Linked DNA regions of Homo sapiens. The protein of the gene in region 2 interacts with the protein of the main gene of each other region in a pairwise test. Each region holds a gene or a part of one and is shown on either strand. Other genes may lie near its edges.

Region 1 (7,738 bases), on a different chromosome or scaffold from region 2:
CTAGACTTATATGAATAAATGAAATTACATGCCAAGGGCCCTAAAAAGCAAATTTTACGAAATTGTGTGGCAGTTTCTGGGACTAGAATGAATTTCATTTGTGCTCCTCGGCAGGGAGAGGCCATACTTGCAGTGAGTCACCCCAAGACGGAGCTGTTTGAGAACTGCAGCTGCAGCAAGGCCTTCCAGGTTCCTGGGAGTTGAAGGAAAAGGATGCTGAGGCCAGGACCTGAGTGCTTGTCTCCATGTTCTGGCCACCTCTTCCTAGATTTCCAGGGACTAGCTTGTTGGGGCTTTACTACCTGCTGACATGACCCAGGAGGTTGATGATTGTCATCATCATCCCCGTTTTTCAAATAGAGATGGTAGTGAAGGGGGCGGGGAGAGGGTTGTCCAGCTTACCCACCAGGCTGATGGGGCCTGTGGACAGAAGCCTGTCATGCTCCTGCTTGAGAACCGGATCTAGACTGGGTTTTAGAAGTGTTCTCAAAGGGGCTGGCTGGTTTAAGTCAGGGCTGTTTCAGATCCTATGGAAAGGGCGCCTGGAGCTGTCTTCCTGGCCCCTACTCACACCATCCTGCCCCTTCAGAGAACCCTGTGGGGCACGGAGCTGCGCTAGCAGGGCTGACTGCCACCTGTCTACCAGTAGCTCTGAGGGGTGAGAGCCAGGCTCCCTGTTCTCCTTGGCAAAGAGCTTGGACTGAGCCCTCTAGGAGCTGCAGCCACTGTCTGGGGCAGCAAGCTTAGTACTCAGAGGGGCTCCAGCCCCCAGCTGAGCCAGACAGCAGGCCCTCCGTCTAGAATCCGCTTTATTATGGCACCTGGTGGGTCTGGTGGGATCTGAGGGAGGAAGAGGCTGCAGTCTTGCTGGGCAGCCCCTCGGTCAGTCCAGCAGCCCCTCAGGCCATGCTGCTGCTCAGCTGCATGGCAAAGTCCTGCACATGCTCCTTCAGAGTCTGGCGGGCATCTGCCTGTGCCCGCTTCTCCCGTGCCCGCTCCTGCTGCAGCTTGGTCAGTCTCAACCGCAGCCGCTGCTCCCGCCGCTTGCAGGCCTGCAGCTGGCGCTGGGCCTTGTCAAGGGCATCAAGGGCTGCCTCGGCTCGCCGCTTCCAGAGTAAGGCGCTGCCCACCTGGTAGCTGTGTTCATTCTGGATGTAGGCTCCGGCGGGTGGGGGCAGGCGCAGCATATACGCTGAGGGGGAGACTGGCCGTGGTTCGAGAGGGGAGGGCTGCCGCTCTGGTGAAGGCTGGGCGCTGCAGCCTGCTTCATCTGCCTGGGCACCCAAGGGGCCCAGTAGGTCTGAAAAGGGGCTGCTAAGGCCAGGCTCCAGCCTCCCAGCTGGGGAGGCCGGCAAAGTGGCAGGTGCTGAGGCCTCTTCCACAGGAAAGCAGGTGACATCAGCAGGTGGAGGTGGAGAAAATGGAGTTGTGGGCCCTCGGCCCTCGGAGCAGCTGGTAAGGGGGAAGAGAGAGACTGATGGGCTAGGCTGAGGGCTTGCCAGACCCCCCTCCACCAGCCCACCTGATCCACCCTTAACACCCAAACCCGATCCACAGGTTCTGTGTAGCAAGAACCCTGTCCAGCGAGACTGCTGGCAGACACCCCTAGGGCCCAGTCCCTCAGCCTAGGGGTGGGAGTGGGGCATCCCCCACCCATATCACATACCGCTTCCTGCATCGTCTGAGCCGGCTGACTTCAGCGGGGCCAGGTGGGTAACTGTGTCCTTTGGTCTTGGTTGTCCGGCGCAACTTGGAGAAAGACTCAAATATGGTGGGGACTGCCCCCTCCTTTAGCCTGTGATATCCACTGCGGGGAAAAGCAACCCAGATGAGCTGGAGAGCAAGTGCTGCCTCCCCAGGCCAATCTGCCCCCAGCAGCAGCGCCGTGGGATGCTGGAAGGCATCGTGCAAACAATACGTCTGGGGAACGCCAAGTTACAGCTACACCAATCGCTTCCCCGCAGGACTCCTCACAGTCCAGGTGTGTGGAAAGCCTGCATAAGCCGAGCTGGGCTGACCAGCCAGAAAGAATTCTTTGATTTGTGGACTTGCTGGCAAGACTGGGGCTCTGAAAGATACTCTCTGGAAAGGCTCCTGTTTTCCCCTTGTGTCACAGGCACAGTGATCCTGGGGGTGGGTTTCACTGTGCAGAGCTGGGAACAGGAAACAGCCCCCTTGGACGCAGGCTGCTCAAGGGACTTCCATGACCTGCAGCTGTCCCAGTCCGCCGGGAGCCCCACATCCTACCCCAGCGTCGGCCGGCAGGGAGGCCCACCTGATTCCCACCAGCTCAAAGCAGTCCTCCTCAAAGTGTTTGGAGCAGAAGTAGATGTACTCGGATGCCGGGTCCCACAGGCCCTGGCCGCTGGGGTCCAGCCGCTGGCAGTTGGCCAGCCACAAGCCTCGCCTCGGGTTGTCCTTCTTGGGAAGTCTGTGGAGCCACAAACCCGTGAGCACCAGGCTGTCCACAGCCCTGGGCTCATGCTGCCCAAGCACCCCAGAGGGGAAACGCAGACCCAACACGCGCCGCCACGAGACCTCCCTGCGACCCCGCCGGGTAAGCACCACCGCCCGGGCACAGACGAGGCAACGGAGGCCTCGAGAAGAAAAGCAGTTTCCTCAGCGTCATCTGGCAGGTAACAGAGTGGGGCGGGTCCAAGCCGGCTAGACTTCCCGTCCTCCCCTTCCCGACTGCATTCAGTCCCGCCGGGACCGTTCCGCTTCACCTCCCACCCACAGGTTCAAGCCTCCTCAGTATCTGAGAAAGGCGCGAAGCCTCTACGCAGTTGCGACCCGAGGCGAGCAACAACTAGCGCATGCGCACGTGAGCCCGCGGCGCACGCGCGCTGACCTGTGGAAGGAGATGCCGCGGTTGCGCGTCTCGCGCGTGTCCCGTGTGCAGCAGCCGGCGGCGGAGCAGTGACGCGGCATCTGGGAAAGAGGCGGGAGTTAAGTCGCAAGCGGCTCTCCGGGCATCCGGAGGAGCCTCGCGCCTCCAGCCGCCGCTCCTCCCCAAGGGGCTCTGGCCTGTCGGGTCCCCCCCGGCCCGTTGTCGCCCCAACCCCGTCCCAGCCGATTCTCTTGACTTCTGTCAGCGGCACTCACGCTCTGGCCATTGCTGCGCCGCCGAAGTCTCGCGAGGGGTAGCGCGCGCCGGAAGTTGGTACCATAGAGACTGGAGAGCCGGAGGTGCCCCCGCCACCGGGGCGGGGCGGGGCGAGGTCCTAGCTAGCTGGGTTAGTAAGCGGCGCGAGCGTGCGAGTTTCTGACGCGCCCGCGTCGTCCCAGCTCCCTGGACTACCAGTATTGTCGCCCACGTGGGCTTCTCTTTCGTCCGCTCAGGCCTCACTTTTCTCCGTAAACACCCCGGCACGATGGAGCGGCCCCAGCGTTCGGGAGCGGCCCGGGAGCGGAAAGCGGCAGTGTCCTGGGAGCCTCGAAAGCCGCAGGGGCGGCAGCTCGCCTCGGAATGACCTCTGACGGAAGAAATAAAACGGGGCCTGGGACGCTTGCACGAAAGAACCCGACAAAAACCAGAGCCCGCACTCACTCTCGTACTGGGGAGGTGGACTTCAGGGAGGGTTATCTGGAGGAGGAATCTCTCAAAGTACAACACAGGAGAAAGACAGTATCGCAATACAGAAATTTTATTTTTTATTTTATTATTATTTTCCTGAGACCGGAGTCTCGCTCTGTCGCCCAGGCTGGAGTGCAGTGGCGCGATCTCGGCTCACTGCAAACTCCGCCTCCCGGGTTCACGCCATTCGGCTGCCTCACCCTCCACAGTAGCTGGGACTACAAGCGCCCGCCACCACGCCCGGCTAATTTGCAATACGGAAATTTTAATAGGTAATTAGCTCTCCTAGCGTTATGGTGGGGAATACAGAGGGATGGTTGCCTGCCGCACCCTCCCCTCACTATTCTTCGCCTTCTTCAGCCTCAGCTTCCACGGAATCCATGCCCACATCTTCATAATCCTCCAGAGCTGCCAGATCCTCGCGGGCCTCGGAGAATTCCCCCACTGCCATGCCCTCCCCCACGTACCAGTGCACTAAGGCGCACTTGGCCGAACTTATGGTCCAGGCAGGCCCAGGCCTCCGTGATGGCCGTGGTGTTGCTCAGCATGCACACCGCCCGCTGCACTTTGGCCAGGTCTCCCACAGGGACCACCGTGGGGGGCTGGTAGTTAATGCCCACCTGTCAGAGATGGGCAGCATAGAATGAAGTTTATATTGGCCTCAGAAATGGGAGCTCATTAAAAATCAGAGCTGTGGACCAGTTCCAACACTGTGTTTTAAGAATTGCTTCTATATTTTTTGGCATTATCTGTTATCTATCGACAATTAATATCCTTTGACGACTTTTTTTTTTCTTTTCTTCTCCTTCTTCCTCCTTCTCCTCCTTCTTTGTTGTTGTTGTTGAGACAGGGTCTAGCTCTGTTGCCCAGGCTGGAGTGCAGTGGTGCAATCTCGGCTCACTGCAACCTTTGTCTCCCAGGTTCAAGCAATTCTCCTACCTCAGCGTCCTGAGTAGCTGGGATTATGGGCATGTAAGATGGAGCCCGGAAGACGGAGATTTCAGTGAGCTGAGATTTCGCCACTGCACTCCAGCCTGGGCTACAGAGCGAGACTCTGTCTCAGAAAAAAAAAAAAATTATTACCCATATTACCCATACAGTAAAACACATGAAAAAGAATGAGAACCCTGTCTTGGGATATAAATACATCCAAGGTATATTGTATACTTTGTAAAAAGAAAAGTGAGTTGAAGTCTATGTATTTATGTGTAAAAAAATCCATGTAATAACATACACAGGCTAGAACCTTGGGCAGCTAGGGTAGCATCATGCCGGAGGAGGACAAACGCCTGCTGAGGTGGTGACCCTGCCTTGCCCTGCCAAGCACGTAGCAGTTAGCACCAACTAGATACAGACACACTCCACAGGAGTTGGAAGGGGCAGAGAGAAGGGTTCGTACCCTGATCAGGGAGTGTCCTCCCACAACTCTAAGGCCAAGCCTATCAGCCCTTCCAAGTGGGAGTGCTGCCAGCTTTCTGTTTACTGTGACCACCTGTGTGCAGCAATTGGGTCTGTCACCTACAGGAAAGGGACATACATATCTGCTGGCCACTGTCAACATCACCTGTATAACAAGAGATTAATATGCCTTGAATATGTACAGAATGTTTTTCAAAGGACAGAAGCAGCTCTGGGGAAGAAGAGGACTTCAGCTTTTCAGTCTTCTGCATTCTTTCAGTATTTTGCCACATATCAGGTTTTGTTTTGTTTTTGAGACAGGGTCTCACTCTGTCACCCAGCCTTGAGTGCAGTGGTGTGATCTTGGCTCACTGCAACCTCTGCCTCCTGGGTTCAAGCGATTTTCCCACTTTAAGTGATCCGCCTGCATCAGCCTCCCAAAGTATTGGGATTACAGGTGTGAGCCACCGCGCCCGGCCCATATCAAGTTTTTTTTTTTTTTTTTTTTTTTTTTTTTTTTTTTTTTTTTTTTTTGAGATGGAGTCTTGCTCTGTCATTCAGGCTGGAGTGCAGTGGCACAATCTCGGCTCACTGCAACCTCCACCTCCTGGGTTCAAGCAATTCTCCTGCCTCAGCCTCCAGAGTAGCTGGAATTACAGGCAACCGCCACCATGCCTGACTAATTTTTGTATTTTTAGTAGAGATAGGGTTTCACCATGTTGGCCAGGCTGGTCTTGAACTCCTGACCTCCGGTGATCCGCCTACCTTGGCCTCCCAGAATGCTGGGATTATAGGCGTGAGCCACTGACCGCACCCAGCTTTTTTTTTTTTTTTTTTTTTGAGATGGGTTTTGCTCTGTCGCCCAGGTTAGAGTGAAGTACAATGGTGCCATCTTGGCTCACTGCAGCCTCAACCTCCCGGGCTTAAGCAGTCCTCCTGTCTCAGCCTCCTGAGTAGCTAGCACTACAGGAAATGTGCCACCATGCCCAGCTAATTTTTTATTTTTTGTAGAGACAGGTTTTGCCACGTTGCCCAGGCTGGTCTCAAAGTCCTGGGCTCAAGCCATCCACCCAATGGATTACAGGTGTGAGACACTGTGCCTGGCCAACATAAGTACTTTTATAATAAAAAACCCAAATGTTCGTATTTTTTTTTCTAAGGGTCTTGTTCTGTCACCCAGGCTGGAGTGCAGTGGCGCAGTCATGGCTCACTGCAACATCTGCCTCCCAGTCTCAGGTGATCCTCCTACCTCAGCCTCCCAAGTAACTGGAACTATAGGTGTGTGCCATCACACCCGGCTAATTTTTTGTATTTTGTGTAGAGATGGGGTTTCACCATGTTCCCCCAATGGATCCTGAACTCCTGGACTCAAGCTTTTTTTTTTTTTTTTGGTGAGAGAGGGTCTCACTTGGTCACCCAGCCTGGAGTGCAGTGGTGCAATCTTGGCTCACTGCAACCTCCACCTCCTAGGCTCAAGTGATCCTCCCACCTCAGCCTTCCAAGTAGCTATAAGTGCGTGGCATCATGCCCGGCTAATTTTTTGTATTTTTGGTAGAGATGAGGTTTCACCATGTTGCCTAGGCTGGTCTCGAACTCCTAAGCTCAGGTGATCCACCGACCTCAGCCTCCCAAAGTGTTGGGATTACAGGCATGAGCCACTCGGTCCAGCCCCCAAATGTTTTTAAGCATGGAAAAGACTCTTCGAAAATAGCATATCCGAAGCTGGGTGCAGTGACTCACGCCTGTGATTCCAGCACTTCGGGAGGCCAAGGCGGTTGGATCACTTGAGTTCAGGAGCTCGAGACCAGCTTAGCCAACATGGTGAAACCCTGTGTCTACCAAAAATACAAAAATTAGCCAGGCTTGGTGGCGCATGCCTGTAATTCCAGCTGCTTGAGAGGCTGAGACAGGAGAATTGCTTGAACCTGGGAGGCGGAGGTTGCAGTGTGTTCCATTGTACTCCAGCCTGGGTGACAGGGCGAGACTCCATCTCAAACAAACAAACAAAAAAAAAGCAAATGGTTGTTAAAGAATGTATGGTTGGCTGGGTGCGGTGGCTCACACCTGTAATCCCAGCATTTTGGGAGGCCAAGGCGGATGGATCAACTGAGGTCAGGAGTTCAAGACCAGCCTGCCCAACACGGTGAAACCTCATCTCTACTAAAAATACAAAAAATTGGTCAGGCGTGGTGGCTCATGCCTGTAATCCCAGCACTTTGGGAGGCCGAGGCGGGCGGATCACTAGGTCAGGAGATCAAGACCATCCTGGCTAACACGGTGAAACCCCGGCTCTACTAAAAAATAAAAAAAAAAAAAAAAAAAACGTTAGCCAGGCGCGATGGCGGGCACCTGTAGTCCCAGCTACTCGGGAGGCTGAAGCAGGAGAATGGCATGAACCCCGGAGGCGGAGCTTGCAGTGAGCTGAGATTGTGCCACTGCACTCCAGCCTGGGCGACAGAGCAAGACTCTGTCTCAAAAAAAAAAAAAAAAAATAGCCAGGCATGGTGGCGGGCGCCTGTAATCCCAGCTACTCAGGAGGCTGAGTCAGGAGAATTGCTTGAACCGGGGAGGCAGAGGCTGCAGTGAGCCGAGATCACATCACTGCACTCCAGCCTGAGTGACAAGAGTGAAACTCCGTCTCAAAACAAACAAACAAACAAGAATGTATGGTAAATCACACTAAGACTGACAAAAAGGAACTTAAGAGCAAAGAGAATTAATTCAACAAGGTCCATCTAAGGCTGGACTATCTTCTGGGGGGAG
Region 2 (7,213 bases):
GGAATAAATGACTTTTGGTCTCACTGGATCCTTTACCTTTTAGATCTTGCTCACTTTTCCACATTTATCCCCAATTCAAGGCCTTTCTAGTTAGGAAGAAAGTGTAATTATCTGGCCTCACACATATTATGTCTCAAATATAATCTCTCTCTTCCAAGGGGTTTTGTATATTTTCCAAGGAGACTGGGAGAAGTGATCAATGAATTCTAAATAACCAGCTGTCTCCTTGATTCAGATTTGGAGGCGGCAGCTCCCTGAAGAGCCCCAGATCTCATTTCCACCCAAGCCTCAGCCTCTTTTATTAAGTCATACGCAACCCTGTCCCCACCCTCCAGAAACAGCTATCCTAGGGGTGAGATATAACTCCTACCCTGAACTTTGCCTGTCCACCACGTAAAACAGCTTTGTTTCTTGCTTCATATAAGACTCCAAAAAGTAAATGGGGTCTTATCATGCTCTCATTTCCATTCTCCCTGAACCTGCTCTGCTCCTCTTCACGCTGACATTTTCCTACTAAAGCCAGGCTCAGAGTCAGAGACTTGCTTTCTGAGACTTCTGTTCCCTGGCCCAGGAGTAACAGCCCATGGTTTGCTGAGTGCTCACCATGTAGCAGGGAAAGTTCTAAATGCTTCATGGGTATGATCTCATTTAATCCGCACCTATGAGGTGATTAATATGAAGACCCATATCTCATTTAATCAACACTGAGGTTTACCAGTACAAATACAATATCTTGCCTCAAAAGGCCTTAAACAGTACGGAAATGTGTTATCTAAATTAATTAAAGGTTATAAAGTCAAGTTGGCTCCAGACATGGTACAATGAGGACATCTGGACAGATATAAAAGAGAACTCTGAACCCCTCATATCCTCCTAAACCTTTCTAAGAGGCAGTCCTCTCAAATCCCCAACCAAGCTGCTCTGCATTAAACATTTCAATGACTTAACCTGGAGCAATGGCCTCACACAGGTATGCAGCTTCTTCTCAGCAGCCACCCCCTTCACTGCTCTGAACCCTCCAGGCCCAGAGATCTCAGCATAGCCCCTAGATAGCAGTACAAGGTCTGATTTAAGAGATAACCAAGCATCTTGCTAATTTCCATAGGGAGGAATCTGGGACACATCTATGAGTGGGAATTCTAAGGATGTCTGTCCAAGGAGAACGAAATGTTTGTTAAGATCAGGCTATATCTTTATGGGTGCACTTGCCCAGGATCCGGGACTTAATGTTAGCTGGAGCACCTGAAAGTGACATGTTGGCTATTTGGAGTTTGAAAGTGACAATCTACTATGTTGGCTCTCTGGAGTCTGAACTCAACAGCTGCACATAGGCAATAAGGATTAAGGGGCAGAACTTCCCTGGCACAGTGTTAAGGAATCCAAAAGCTCAGAGAATTAGGAGCATTACATATATATGTCCAGGTTTACGCCTATTGTTATGGTCTAATTATTAATACTGCTCTCTTTGCCGTCTGCTCAGCCAACCCTTAACCACGCCACCCTGGAGGACCCAGAGAACACACCCTTTGCCAGGGCTTTAAGAAATGCGTTGGTGAAGGGAGCATCAGAACCCTGACAAAGCCCTGAGGTAGCTGTCCCCAGCAGCCTGGAGATGACAGCGGGGAATACTAGGATTGGTTGTATTCCCTGATTTCCACGGGAATAATGGTAGTCAGAGTGACAGTGGTAGAGGCCAGTGATAGCACTTAACCATTAAAAGACAATCATTTCTTTTTTTAGTGCTTGATATTTATTGAAAATAATGCCAATGCTTTTTCCAGGTAGTATTGAGGAGCTGGGCTGAGTGCTTGTTTGTTTTGTTTTTAAGTACTATTTGTCCAAATGCACACATCTGTGGGACTGCTGCAATTTTGAAAGAAAAATGACAGCTGTGTAAAACCAGTGCATAGGAAAAAAGAAGTGTCAACAATTTGGCTGCCAGGCACACCGCGCCCCTGCAGCAATCTGGTGGGGCAGGGGAGGACACTCGGAGTAGGTAGAAAACTAACCAGGCTGAACGGCCCCTTCAGGGGTTGGTGAGCTGTCCAAATCAATGTCTGAAAAGGCATAGCCAACTCTGGCATTTTCCAGGTTGGTCCTGATCTCGAAAGGTGGTAGTCTGTAGGTGGGATGTGGTGAGTGGATGTGAAGTGGCAGCATAGTTCTCTGGGAAGATGTAAGCCTGGCAGCAGGGCAGGTGGCAGCAGCAGGGCTACGGGTGGTCTGCGCAGTTTGTAACAGGGGCCTGGCCAATAGCTGGGGTTCAGGACACAGTTCAGATTAGCAGGGGAGGGATCCCGGGGATGGCCAGGGTAGATGACACTTCCAAGCACTTCCGAGTGAGTGAGGCTCCAGCCCCGACCCCAGCAGCAGGTAACTGGAGCGCTATTCCTGGAACAAAGACAAGCACTACGGAGAAATGAAGAGAGAGAGCAGACGGGCGCGGGTAGGTAAGGGGACCGGAGGGCAAGGGGGAGAGCAGTGGCTCCTGGCGGGGTGAGGGCTGCGGGGAGGGGGTGGCGGCGTGCAGGGCCCTCCCCCCCGAGGCCCGAGGGTCGAGGGCCTAATAATCATCCTCCTCTTCTTCGTCGTCGTCGTCTTCGTCGTCATCCCAGCCAAAGCACTGTTTCATCTCATCGAGGAAGGCCCGGTAATCACCTAGGATGGGGCTATCCATCTCGATGTAGGGCACCACCCACTCCTCGGCTTCCCCGGTGAGGAGGCTGATTAGGAATGCCACCTTCATGGCGTCGTTGCAGAATCGGTTCTCGTTCACGAGCATGTAAGACGCCGTCTGCACGATAAACTCGGGGAGCCGGGAGCTCTCGCCATTAAACGTTTCGGGGAAGGGCACCGGGCAGCTCGGCGGACGTACCTGGCGCAGCAGGCTGGCCCTCTCGCACACCAGCAGCCGCAGCTGTTCCATGAGCTGGCTGTTCTCGATGCTCAGGGCGCGGTGCCGCATCAGGAGCGCGTGCAGCAGCAGCACCAACTCATCCACCATTGCGAACGGCCTGGAAGGACAGGACTCGGCTCGGTTCGGCTCGGCCAAGGTGCGCACGGAGCCCTCGCAGGAAGTGCGTGTCCACGGAGGCGCTTGGTGGCCAGGGGCGGGGGGCGGGGGGCGGTGTGCGCCGGGGTCCGGGAGGCTACGCAAGCTCCGCCCACGAGGCCATTCGGACGGACGGTGCGCCGGCGCGACGGGGGAGGGGCGTGGCTAGGCTGGGAGTGGGGGGGCCGCGGCGGCGTGGGGGCGTGGCCGGGATGGGAAGGGTGTAGACAAAGAGGGCGTGGCCAGGAAAAGGATGCGCTGGGTCGCTGAACCACCGGCTTGTGGTAGGTCTCTCGGCGGGCAGTTAAAGGCTGGGATAGGCTCCCCTAGCTCCTAGTTGTGGGGCCTGCGTTAGCAGAGGACTTGGCGAGCGCTGAGTCCGGTCTCAGAGAAGGTAAATTTGTTCAAACTGAAAGGATTAGCCACCCTTCTACCTAGGTAGCTTGCACAACTCAGTGTTCCTTCGTGGGTCTGTGGCCACTAGATTCTCTTGGCTTGATGTTTTATTAACACATTTTCTTTCTTATTTAAATCTCACTCAGAGAAGTATTGACACTGCTGGCTGCCCTGTGGGAGTCACACTTCCTTTTAGAATCATGAAGACCCTCAGGGGGTCCTGCCTTTCATGAAAAAGGTAGTATTTAAACAGTGACTTCTTTAGTAGGGAAATAATATGGTATACACACACACACACACACACACACACACACACACACAAAACCTAAGTAACAAGATATAAAAAAGTTCTGCAAAATCAGCATCCAATAGTCAATTGCAGGCATCCCACATATCTTTGATTCTCTATTTCTTGTCTTGCTATTAGTGCCGTTGGCCACTGGGTATTATTCTGTACTTAAAAATGAACTGTTAAGATGTTTGTGTTTTTAAATAATTTTGTTTTTCTACTTTGAATGGATCCCTGATTCTAGAGCCAACATGAATTGTTGGCTCTGCTTTCAAATATATTGCCAATTCAATCACGTCTTGTCATTTCTGCCACTGCCACCCTGATTCCTAGCCTTTCTTTCTCACCCAGACTGCTGCAACTAATCACTTAGCTTTCACTCTTTTCTTCCTATAGTATATTCTCCATAGAGTAGCCACGGGAATCCTTTAAAACAAAAATTAGGGCCGGGCGCGGTGGCTCACGCCTGTAATCCCAGCACTTTGGGAGGCCGAGGCGGGCGGATCACGAGGTCAGGAGATCGAGACCATCCTGGCTAACAGGGTGAAACCCGTCTCTACTAAAAATACAAAAAATTAGCTGGGCGTGGTGGCGCATGCCCGTAATCCCAGCTACTCGGGAGGCTGAGGCAGGGGAATTGCTTGAACCCTGGAGGCAGAGGTTGCAGTGAGCCGAGATAGCGCCACTGCACTCCAGCCTGGGCTACAGAGCGAGACTCCGTTTCAAAAGAAAAAAAAAAAGATCCCTTCACTCTCCTGCTCAAAATCCTCCAACAGTTTCACCTGAGAATAAAGAGCAAAGTTGCAGCCAAGGCCTACAAGGCCCCTCCTTCTATCCTGTGCCTCTTCCCAGTTTCTGCTGTGCTCTAATCACTGTCCTCCTTGCTGATTCTCACACCCATCAAGCAGTTCTGGCTTCATAGCCTTTGCATCTTCTATTCCTTCTGCCTTGCAAGGCTGTCATCCCAGTTGGCTGCCTGACTCCTCCTACTGCTTTCAGAGAGAACTTTTCTGACCACCGGACCTATCAGAGCACCCTGTTCTCTGCCCCCAATCTGTAACCCTTTACTCTGCTTCATTTATCTACATAACATTTATTGTGCTACCGGCCACCATGTCGTATGTATATACAGTACTTTGCTCATCATCTGCTTCCATTTTAGAATATATAAGTCAAACACTGCTTTTGCTATCTGGTCTATCCCTAATGCCTAGAAAAGTTCTGGCCCAGAGTAGAGGCTTCATTAATGTTTGGCGAGTAAAATCATCCCAGAGTGAAGATGCTGAGATGAAAATCAGAAGTTGTCGCTGCACAAAGAGTCAAAAAATACTCTTCAAATTGTTAAATGTAAGGTTGGGCGTGGTGGCTCATGCCTGTAATCCCAGCACTTTGGGAGGCTGAGGGGGGCAGACCACCTGAGGTCAGGAGTTAAGACCAGGCTGACCAACATGGAGAAACCCTGTCTTTCCAAAAAATACAAAATTAGCCAGGTGTGGTGGTGGGCGCCTGTAATCCCAGCTACTTGGGAGGCTGAGGCAGGAGAATCACTTGAACCTGGGAGGCAGAGGTTGCCTGAGCCGAGATCACGCCATTGTGCTCCAGCCTGGGCAATAAGAGCAAAACACCATCTCAAAAAGAAAAAAAAAAAAGAAAAAAAATTGTTCAGTGTATTTTATCTCTGACCATGGATCAGTCTCGATTGTGAAACAATGACTGATGTAATAAAACTGGCTGAATAGATTTTTAAAGAAATTCGATTCGGTCCTTTAGGATAGAATTGAATGATCATCCATGGAAGTAGGAGGCTGGGAAAGAGCAGAGAAACAGGGCCAAGCCCCAAGCAGGGACACGGGGAAGATCACAGTGGTGAAAGGATAAGCAGTGAAAAAAAGAGATAGGAGGAATGTGAGCTTTTGGCCTCTCCTGTGCTATGAGCTCCGCCACCTGAGAAGTTGGCAGGCAGGGATCCACTCTCACTCTTAATTTTATCTTCAGCACCTGGCAGTGTTTACTAGCTGCTCCGTAAACATTCAGTGTAAGGATTGAGGGGAGGGATGTGAAATGTGGAAAGTAGGTCTCTGGCCATCATGCCCATTTACAGTTCAGAGTACAGGATGGGCCTGACTGGGACAGAGGTAGTGTCCAGCTTCACCTTTCATATCCAGGCCCTAATACAGGAAGAGTACTCAGGGTTCGACTCCTGGGAGCACACTTTCTTTCTTTCTTTTTCTTTTTTTTAGACAGAGTTTTGCTCGTGTTGCCCAGGCTGGAGTGCAATGGCACAATCTCGACTCACTGCAACCTCCGCCTCCCGGGTTCAAGCGATTCTCCTGCTTCAGCCTCCCGAGTAGCTGGGATTACAGGCATGCGCCACCACGCCCAGCTAATTTTATATTTTTAGTAGAGACAGGGTTTTTCCATGTTGGTCAGGCTGGTCTCAAACTCCTGACCTCAGGTGATCCACCCGCCTCGGCCTTCCAAAATGCTGGGATTACAGGCGTGAGCCACCGCGCCCGGCCTAGAGCACACTTTCTGTAGCAGACACTGGGCCAGGTGATTGGCAGGGCTGTCACAATGACTCATACACAAGGACCAGACATGGGAATGGGCATTTTAGAGCCAGAGACCCAGGAGGTAAATATCTAAACCTAATAAAGCAATAGGTTGATGGTGCTATACCTTCATGCCAACCTCTCTAACTCTAAAGCCCGCCCATGCCCTTGCTCTGAATAATTAATATGTGCTGGACCCTTGTGACTTCAGTGGGCCCAGGCAGGTCTAGTGGGGAACCAGAGATGATTAGGCAGATGCTGCCCTAATTTTCTCCCTACAACCCCACAGCAGAGGGATTCAGGGAGGAAACCAGACGAGGCAACCACTATTGTTCCCTCTGAGTGTGCTCTGAGACCCTGGAAGACAGGAAATGTCCTGCCCAGAACTGAGCAGTGACTTTGGGAGGTGCTTCCCTGGTTGGAGAAAGGGAATGGAGACAAGCAGCTTAGCACTGACTCACAACAGAAGCAGTCAGGAAGAGGTATGTAGTATCAGTTGATAGAAGATGTAGAATCTTAATGCTCATTTTAACCAGCTTCCAGGTGCCTGTGAGGCTCTCCCACCAGTGCCAATGCATATCAGCACTTCCTTCTCCATTCACCCTGCTCACAGCTGCATGTCGCCTTCCTCATTTTCTTTCCCCTTCTCGAGTGGCCCTTAAGTGTTCCTTTCCACTTAACGTGAATATGCTGGGGGCAGACACAAGTACTCCCTGTGACAAGTACTCATAGGGAGTACTTGTCTCGGGCCAGTAAAATTTATCAGGACAGCTCTGGGTTGGAACGCCCTAAGGGTGGCTTAGACTCCACCGTTTGGCAAGAGCACAAGTCCAAGGCACTCACTACCACCATGTTTCAGGCTCCAAACCGTGCCCTGGTACACATCAAGCATCCAGACTGTAAAATTCTCTTGAACATGAAAAT
Region 3 (7,272 bases), on a different chromosome or scaffold from region 2:
GATTATTTCCAGCTCTCTATGGCTTGGTAAGTGTTTTGGGGGAGAAGATAATGTAAAGATTTAAATTACTGGACATTTAAAATGAAGACACTCCTATGGGACCTGATTATGCAGGCAGAGGGGGACGGGCCTGCCGCTGGTCTGGGTCTAGGGGCCGTCCCCATGGGGTCCAGTGATTCCCATGCAGCCATCCGGATGGGACCCAGGGCACTGGCCATTCGGCCCACAGGGTCCCAGACATGCGAGAGCCAATGAGGAAGAGAGCGCACGGGCAGAAACCAGAGCTGGGAGGGCAAGTAACGCAGTCTTTATTTACACCACAAGATAACACGTTGCGTGATGTGGTACAGAATACTGGACTCCAGTGAAGTGGAAAGAAGGTGACCGTCAGAAGAGGATATCATTGGTCGGTGAAAATCCACCCACACAAAACAAGACAAGAATGAGAAAACCAAACACAAAACCTCCAACTCCACTGAGCAAAAGAAAGAACCATCGGGCACGTCCAGACAATCCAAGAGAAACGGATTAAATTACAGAGGTGAATGGTGGCCACGGCCAGTGCGCAGCTCACGGCGGGCGCGAACAGGCATCAGGTAGGTTACAGTGTCGTTACAACTTGGTTTTCTACCACATTCCGTAAGAAGCTCTTGGGTGAGTAAGGTTCAAGCCCCCTGTATAGATAGATAGATAGATAGATAGATAGATAGATTATATATGTTTGTCATTCTCATCAATTGGAAAATAGCGCCTCCACTATGGAGCACACACGGCAAAAAAAACAAACAAAAACTGTTCGCTTTCTTTTTCTTTCAATAGCAGACTTTTAATCAATGCCAGAGACAAAGTGAGGCCGAGCTAAGAACACGCTCAGCTTCGTTACAATGAAGAAATGGTTTCCTTTCGATGCAAAGTATAATTGTAAACCACAGTGCTCGCACAGTTCACGACTGCTTAAAGTGAAATCTTAGCCATACATCACCTAAAAGTAATTAAAAAGTCAACACAGCTGTGCGGAAAAGGGGACTCTTTCGAGTCCGCCCAGTTCTCAATCAGAATAAACCGTCACAAGGCCAGTGAGGGCGGGCGGCGCTCGCCTGGCCCGTGGAAGGAGATAAAAGGAAACAAACAAAACAAAACAAAACAAAATTCCTCCAAATCAACTCGAGAGAGACAGGCAGTTCACTGTGAATTCTGAGTAGTTTCCCTAAAACACTGTTTCCACATAAATACAATAAACTCTATTATTGGTATGTCACAAGTGCTAGATAAACTTTTTTTCTTAATATGACAAATGTTTAAGTAGTCCTTTTTATTTTTCTTACAATAAAAAGTACAATTTCTTAAGAATAAGTTCAATAAGACGCAAACTTCCCCGCCCTCCTCTCCTTCAAGGTTTTGTTTTACAGAAAAATTTCCATCTTTTGTATCTGCAAATGTCATGAGAGGGGAACAGAAAGGCATTTTTCTTCTTCCCCAAAGCTGCCGAGTTTGGCGTGCAAAATCTGTATACAATATAAAGTCATGCCGGTCGTACAGTCCATGCAACCTCCAGGTGTAGGAAACTTAAAAAAATATATTCATATATATTTATATCTATATATTTATATATGTATCAATGCCCATAAAACACGTGGGCCCAAAGTCTACAAAAAGAAGAATGGAATGAGCACGTGGCTGTGACCAGTAAAGAAGGAATGTTCTGATCAAAAAGAAAAACAACAAAGTCCATTGCTAGTGCTGCAAAAATCAAACTTGCTTTTGTGTCAGACCATTACGAAATGGTCCTTCCCCTTGCAAACAGATTTTCAAAAGAAGTAAAGAAAAACTGAAACACCTTGACAAAGTGGCCCTCCAGAACCAGAGCCCTGGGACGCTGGGGAGGGGCGGCCAGTCCCAGCGGGCCACGGCCTCCGGGACAGCCGCCTGCTGGTGGGGCGTGGGCACGTGGGCACGCTGCGGCACGGCGGGAAGCCGCGAGGGCAGGGCAGACGCCAAGAGGCCCAGTGGCGTCATCAGGGTTTCCCTCAAAGGGATATAAAGTGCTCGCTTGCTGACTCCCAGCCAGTGCCCCCAAGGCCTTTGCAAAGGAAGAAAAAGGCTAAAGGTCCAAGGACCCACAGGGAGAACACATGAAGGAACCCTCCCTGACGTGGTCCCGCCTGCAGACGCCGAGGCAGATCCTCTGCCATCTGCCCTGGACGCTTGCTGTGGAGAAGAGCCGAGTGTGTCTTCAAAGAAAAGGCTACACAGTAATGCTCTCAGCACATTTGTGAAGCTGGAGTGAGCTGACAGATGAAACGTGCCTCCCCCTGCCAGGCCTTTGCAGAGGGCGTCTCCATTTGAATGAGATTAGAATTAAGTCCCCCCACTGATAACCTGGCCACTGAGCAGTCCATGTTATCCCATCATCTGCTTAAAAAAAAAAAGTGAGATGATGCATTCCTCCCCATAAGCCACGGCGGGGTAAGAGGGCAGGTGGCAGGATCCCCAGAGGGCTATGCAGAGAATGAGGCCAAGGAGGCCAGAAGAGCCTGCTAGCTGGGCCCTGCCACTGCTCTGTGCCATGAATGGGGAATGGACCAGCTCCTCTTGCCAATCTGGGCTTCAGAGCAAAGAGTGGCCACCAGGGAGGGGAAAGTCAAACAAGTCCCAAGACCGTTCTGCCTGCTCTCAAACCACTGTCTCAGAGCTGACCATCAGCAGCCCAGTGACCAAGTGAATCCAAGAATCTGCACTCATTTGGTCAAAAGTTTGAGTTAATTTCAGAAGCTACCCTGTAAACTTTACCAAACTCCGAAACTCGGCTCTGGGTCCCTCCTGAGCACGGTGTGTCTGAACTTCTGCCCCCAAGTCTGAACCCAATATACACTTTGGAATGAAACTGGTGGCTTCATGTGCTGGAAAATAAGTTACCAGTAAAACGTGACTGTCAGTTACTGTTGAAGAGAAAAAGAGTAAAGACTGGCTGTCCTGGTCAGGCAATCATACCCTCCCTGCAGGTTCACCAGGCAACAAGGGTCCCTGGGTTCCTTGCAGCCACAGGCTCCAAAATCCAGGGCTGGCCACGTGGCTGCAGTGGAAAAACCCAAGTGGGTAAAGAGCCCCACGTGTGCCCCATGCATTGCTGACATGCTCAAAAGGTCTTTGGAAAACTCAAGTTAGAATTCTATCCTGACGATGTGGTCAGAGAAGTTTAAACATGAGTTTCATTAATGCTGACTGCCCCCGGCATCTGGCAAGCCTCCCAGGGTGGCCGGGCATCCTAAGCAACCCTCCCTGCCCTTGCCACGGAGGGGAAAAACACACCACCCCTCGTAATACTACTAGTGTTGAAAGTTAAAAAGAGCCCCTGGGCTTCTTTATACAGCTCCTAGGACAGACCAGGAAAGACACAATCGTTGGTGTCACTCCGAAAAGACCTACGGTCCCTCCTCTCACTTTCTGAAAATAGAATCTGACAGCAACAATTCTGTACGCTGCAGAAAACTCATCGTACAAAAATAAAAACAAAAATAATTAAAAACCTTTGAAAGGTAAAAAAAAATGTACAAGCAAGAATTCAGAAAGGAAAAAGATTTAGACATTATTACCATTCAGAAAATTGCTAAATGGTGAGGAAAAATGTAAAATTCATAAAACAATGCTTATTCAGGATCTTTTTGTGAAAAAATTCATACAAAAATCAACAGCAAATTTATATTCTTTGCTATAAAAACTCATTAGGTACATATGTGCATGAAGGCTTGGAGACGGGAGCGGTTCTGTTAGAAAATAATTAAAATGAAAGTACAAACTTGTAGGGTAGTTGCCCAGTGGCGAATGTGTTGGCGATCTGAAATCTAGCCAATCTGGAGCTTGAGAAAACATGAATTTCAATCAATCAGGATCCCTTTCCATAAGCACCTTGAGAGCAAATTCACAAGCCATCCATTTGCAGGGACCTTCGCAATCTGCATTCATTTTATATATATATATATACTTTTTCTATAAATGCATTATAAATATTTTATCAAGATTTCATAAGAATCAAGTAAGTTTCTTAGCTTGGAATACATTGGAATATATATTATACATATATATATTTATTTATACCTAAAATTTAAGCAATACTTCATGCTACTTGCTTTTAATAAAAAGCATTCCGATCGTAACACTGCAAGTGTGCCTACCACATGCTTCACGACCAGATGGAGATGCTCAATCGTATGTGACGTGTGAGAACACTTTGGATTCGTTTAAAATTTGTTGGACTTCAAAACCTCCAACGGGATTTGCCACTTTTTTGGAACTACCTCCATTTTTCTTAAACAGCAATAAAGCAAAACAGGGACCGCCGGGCTGCAGCCCCTGGCCCCGGAGATGACGGCTGGTGCCCGTGCTTGAGGCGTCAGGCCAGCTCGCGGTGCCAGCACTGCCAGGCTCGGCTGGCCACAGGAAACTGTCCCACCGATTCCTGCTGTTTGTTTTTTCTTAAGGCATTGTTCCTCAGACTTCAGAAAACCCAGCCACAAAAATCCACCAGAGCAATAAAAAAAAAGGCACAAACTCGCATCTTCCGATGGCTTTTGAGAAACTCAAGCCAGCTCCCCCAGCTCACATTCCTGTTTCTGTCCAGTTTTGTTTTCTTTAAAGGTCCCTCTGTCCCCCACCCGGGTGCAGACCCCCCGCCGCACACCGCTATGGTTCACAGAGGCGGGCCACAGCCGTAGAAAACGTCCTCTTTAAAAAAAAATAAGCTACAAGATGAGTCGAGTGGTTTACACAGAGACTGTGGAGTTGTGGGTAATAAACTTTAAGCACCAGTTTTAATCAAGTTTGTTTTGTATTATTAGATCTTTGATATTTGTTTTCTGTGCCTCGTGTCAACTGAATTCGGCAGCTCGGCCGCCTGTTGCCACAGGCTCCTTTCTTCCACGGCGTCCCTTGCGGGACCCGCCAGAGTGTGCTTGGCTTCCGCGTGTCCGTGTGTCTGCGCGTCGCCGGCGTCTGTCCCGTGTTCCCTGTGAGGCTGCCACGCCCAGGCGTGCATGTGCGTCTCGAGACCTGTGGGCCTGGGCGGCAGAAAGGCTTCCCGTGGCTGTTGCACGCTGGGTGTCCCTGGGTGCTCCAAGAGAGCCCCACGGTGGGACGCAGGCGTGACACGGGAAAGTTTCTTGGCTGAGCTTCAAGACAGAGACAGACAGACAAGAGAACAGCAGCTTCGAGGGAGTGCTACAGGGGCGGCTCCTCTTCCATGGGCTCCTCATCTGGTCTGTGGATCCCGCAAGAGAAGGAGATGGGGGCGTGGGGCAGGTGCACCACAGAGAGGAGAGAACAGAACGTGGGTTAAAGGCTGTGTGCTGCCCCACCCGCCAGCCTAGCCCTGGCCTGGCAGCCCCGGGTCCATCTGTTCAGGATCTAATGCTCCTCATGCGTCTCTAAGGGGCTTTGGCACTGGAAGGAGGGGGCCACACTGGCCTGTCTCTAGTCTGTTGGGCAGGGCATGTGCCATAAAGGTTCTGACCCTGAATAGTGTGTCAGTGGGCACAGTGGGGCTGGGTGAGCCTGCAGGCGGGCGGCAGGGCAGGTGCTCACCTCTTTTCGGCGGGCTTCACGCCCACGGACAGCGAGGCCATGGCGGTGACCGTCTCGGCTTCTTCGTTCTCGCAAGTCTGAGCCTCGATCAGAGAACGCCCCGCTGTGGAGGTTGTGCGCTGCAGGCAGCGCCAGTACTTGCCTGGGGTGGTGGGGTGAGGAAAGTCGCTCAGTGACTACAACTTAGCAGGATGCACTGAGGCCCGGGAAGGTCCTGCGGGACCCTGAGCCTCAAACCAGATTGATCCCTTATGATTTTAAAAGCACCCGTCTTTGAAGAGACACGAAGCAGAAGACTGCATGGCTACAAACTCACAAAGACCCAAAAAATCTCTGGAAATGTTTCCCCATTGTGAGTGGCTCGAGTCCCTCCAGGAGCAGGCCCACCTAGGACTGCAGAGGGAGGCTCCTGTAGGCCTGGCTTTCCACGCTCACGGGCCCCTTTCTGCCCTGGGTGGCCAGGGCAGGGGGCTGCCAGCCTGCTGGGTTGAGCCTTCCTATCTCTGGGAGCAGGTGAGCTGGGGGATTGTCGCTGGGGCTGAGGGGTCTTCTGCCTGGGCCCTCACAGAGGCTGGGGGTGGAGGGGTACTGCGTCAGGCGCAAGGGGGTGTATGTGGAGGGCTGGGCCTGGCCCAGGGTCAGCTTCAGGGCTCTGAAGCCAGGACTCCCTCACACAGGGAAACGGGGAGCTGAGCTCTGGACTACCCCTGCTTCTGTGGACAGTCTCAACCATCTGGGTCATCTCAAAGGCAAGACAAGCTGGGCTTGCGACAATGACAGGGTGTGGGAGGCGCCTCTGAGATAGGCTGCGTGCCACGCCCTTGCACCCAGGACCTGCTGCTTGAGGGTCGGTGCCAGAACTCAGAGGGCCTACACCCTGCCTCTCTGCAGGGCCAAGGGTTCTTTGAGGTCAGGACGTGGGCTTCTCTGGTCCAGGGAAGAGGCCGGAGTCCCCAGGGTACAGGCTCACAGCCATGGCCCCCGCTGCTAGCTGGGGACCTAGAGCAAGTGACTCCACACTGAGACTGTCTGGGCCTTGATTCTCTAGACTTACAAATTGGGCTGATGGAACCATCCCAGCAGGCCGGGGGAAATCCAGTCGGGGTTAAATGTGAGTCTCTACCAGCTCAAGAAATGCAGCTGAAAGCAAGGCCTTCTGCTGCAGGCCTGGGGAAGCAGCCGGCAGTGGGATGGAGAAGAGCTGGGGGTATAGGGGGACAGGGATGGGGTGTGGTGCAGTCCCACCCCCAGGGGCGTGTCCCCTGTGAGCACCCAGCCAGGCAACTTACTGTGGATCTCCATGACTTTCTCCATGGAACGGACAGCGTTTGCATTGGGTCTTTGCTGTAAAACCTTTTCTGGGAGAGGATCAAGCTGGAAGAAAATGCATAAGAATATAAAGACTGCCAATATAATCCACACGTGCGTTAGACGGGTGTTCCGAGACTGCAACTGTTTCCTGAGCACAGAGACCCTTGTGGGGTGCATTTGCCCACAGAGTAGAAAAAAATAACTTTAAAAAGCCAAATGTGCCGTGGTATTTATAATTTTTTTGTAAAAGTGGATTTTTTTTTAGGACGCTATAAGATATTTGTGGGTTCCTACAAGTAGCAGGAAGAAAGACAGTCCCCAGGAGTGGGGCTGGCACCTGCACGTGAACTTGGTATCTGCCATCGACGCCACAGGGTTCCATGA

The links. The genes of interacting proteins can lie anywhere in the genome.
Region 1: the proteins of LDOC1 (region 2) and THAP7 interact in binary tests that used the Homo sapiens proteins (3 or more experiments, as listed by UniProt).
Region 3: the proteins of LDOC1 (region 2) and HDAC4 interact in binary tests that used the Homo sapiens proteins (3 or more experiments, as listed by UniProt).

What each region holds. Positions count from the first base shown.
Region 1 is NC_000022.11:20,998,981-21,006,718, forward strand, and holds THAP7 (THAP domain-containing protein 7), read right to left. Parts: upstream 3,139-7,738; 5' UTR 2,932-3,138; coding exon 2,852-2,931; intron 2,432-2,851; coding exon 2,276-2,431; intron 1,808-2,275; coding exon 1,667-1,807; intron 1,453-1,666; coding exon 900-1,452; 3' UTR 124-899; downstream 1-123. UniProt on the Homo sapiens protein: Chromatin-associated, histone tail-binding protein that represses transcription via recruitment of HDAC3 and nuclear hormone receptor corepressors.
Region 2 is NC_000023.11:141,174,018-141,181,230, forward strand, and holds the start of LDOC1 (protein LDOC1), read right to left. Parts: upstream 3,113-7,213; 5' UTR 3,005-3,112; coding exon 2,564-3,004; 3' UTR 1-2,563. UniProt on the Homo sapiens protein: May have an important role in the development and/or progression of some cancers.
Region 3 is NC_000002.12:239,047,883-239,055,154, forward strand, and holds the end of HDAC4 (histone deacetylase 4), read right to left. Parts: intron 6,952-7,272; coding exon 6,867-6,951; intron 5,720-6,866; coding exon 5,578-5,719; intron 5,255-5,577; coding exon 5,215-5,254; 3' UTR 286-5,214; downstream 1-285. UniProt on the Homo sapiens protein: Responsible for the deacetylation of lysine residues on the N-terminal part of the core histones (H2A, H2B, H3 and H4).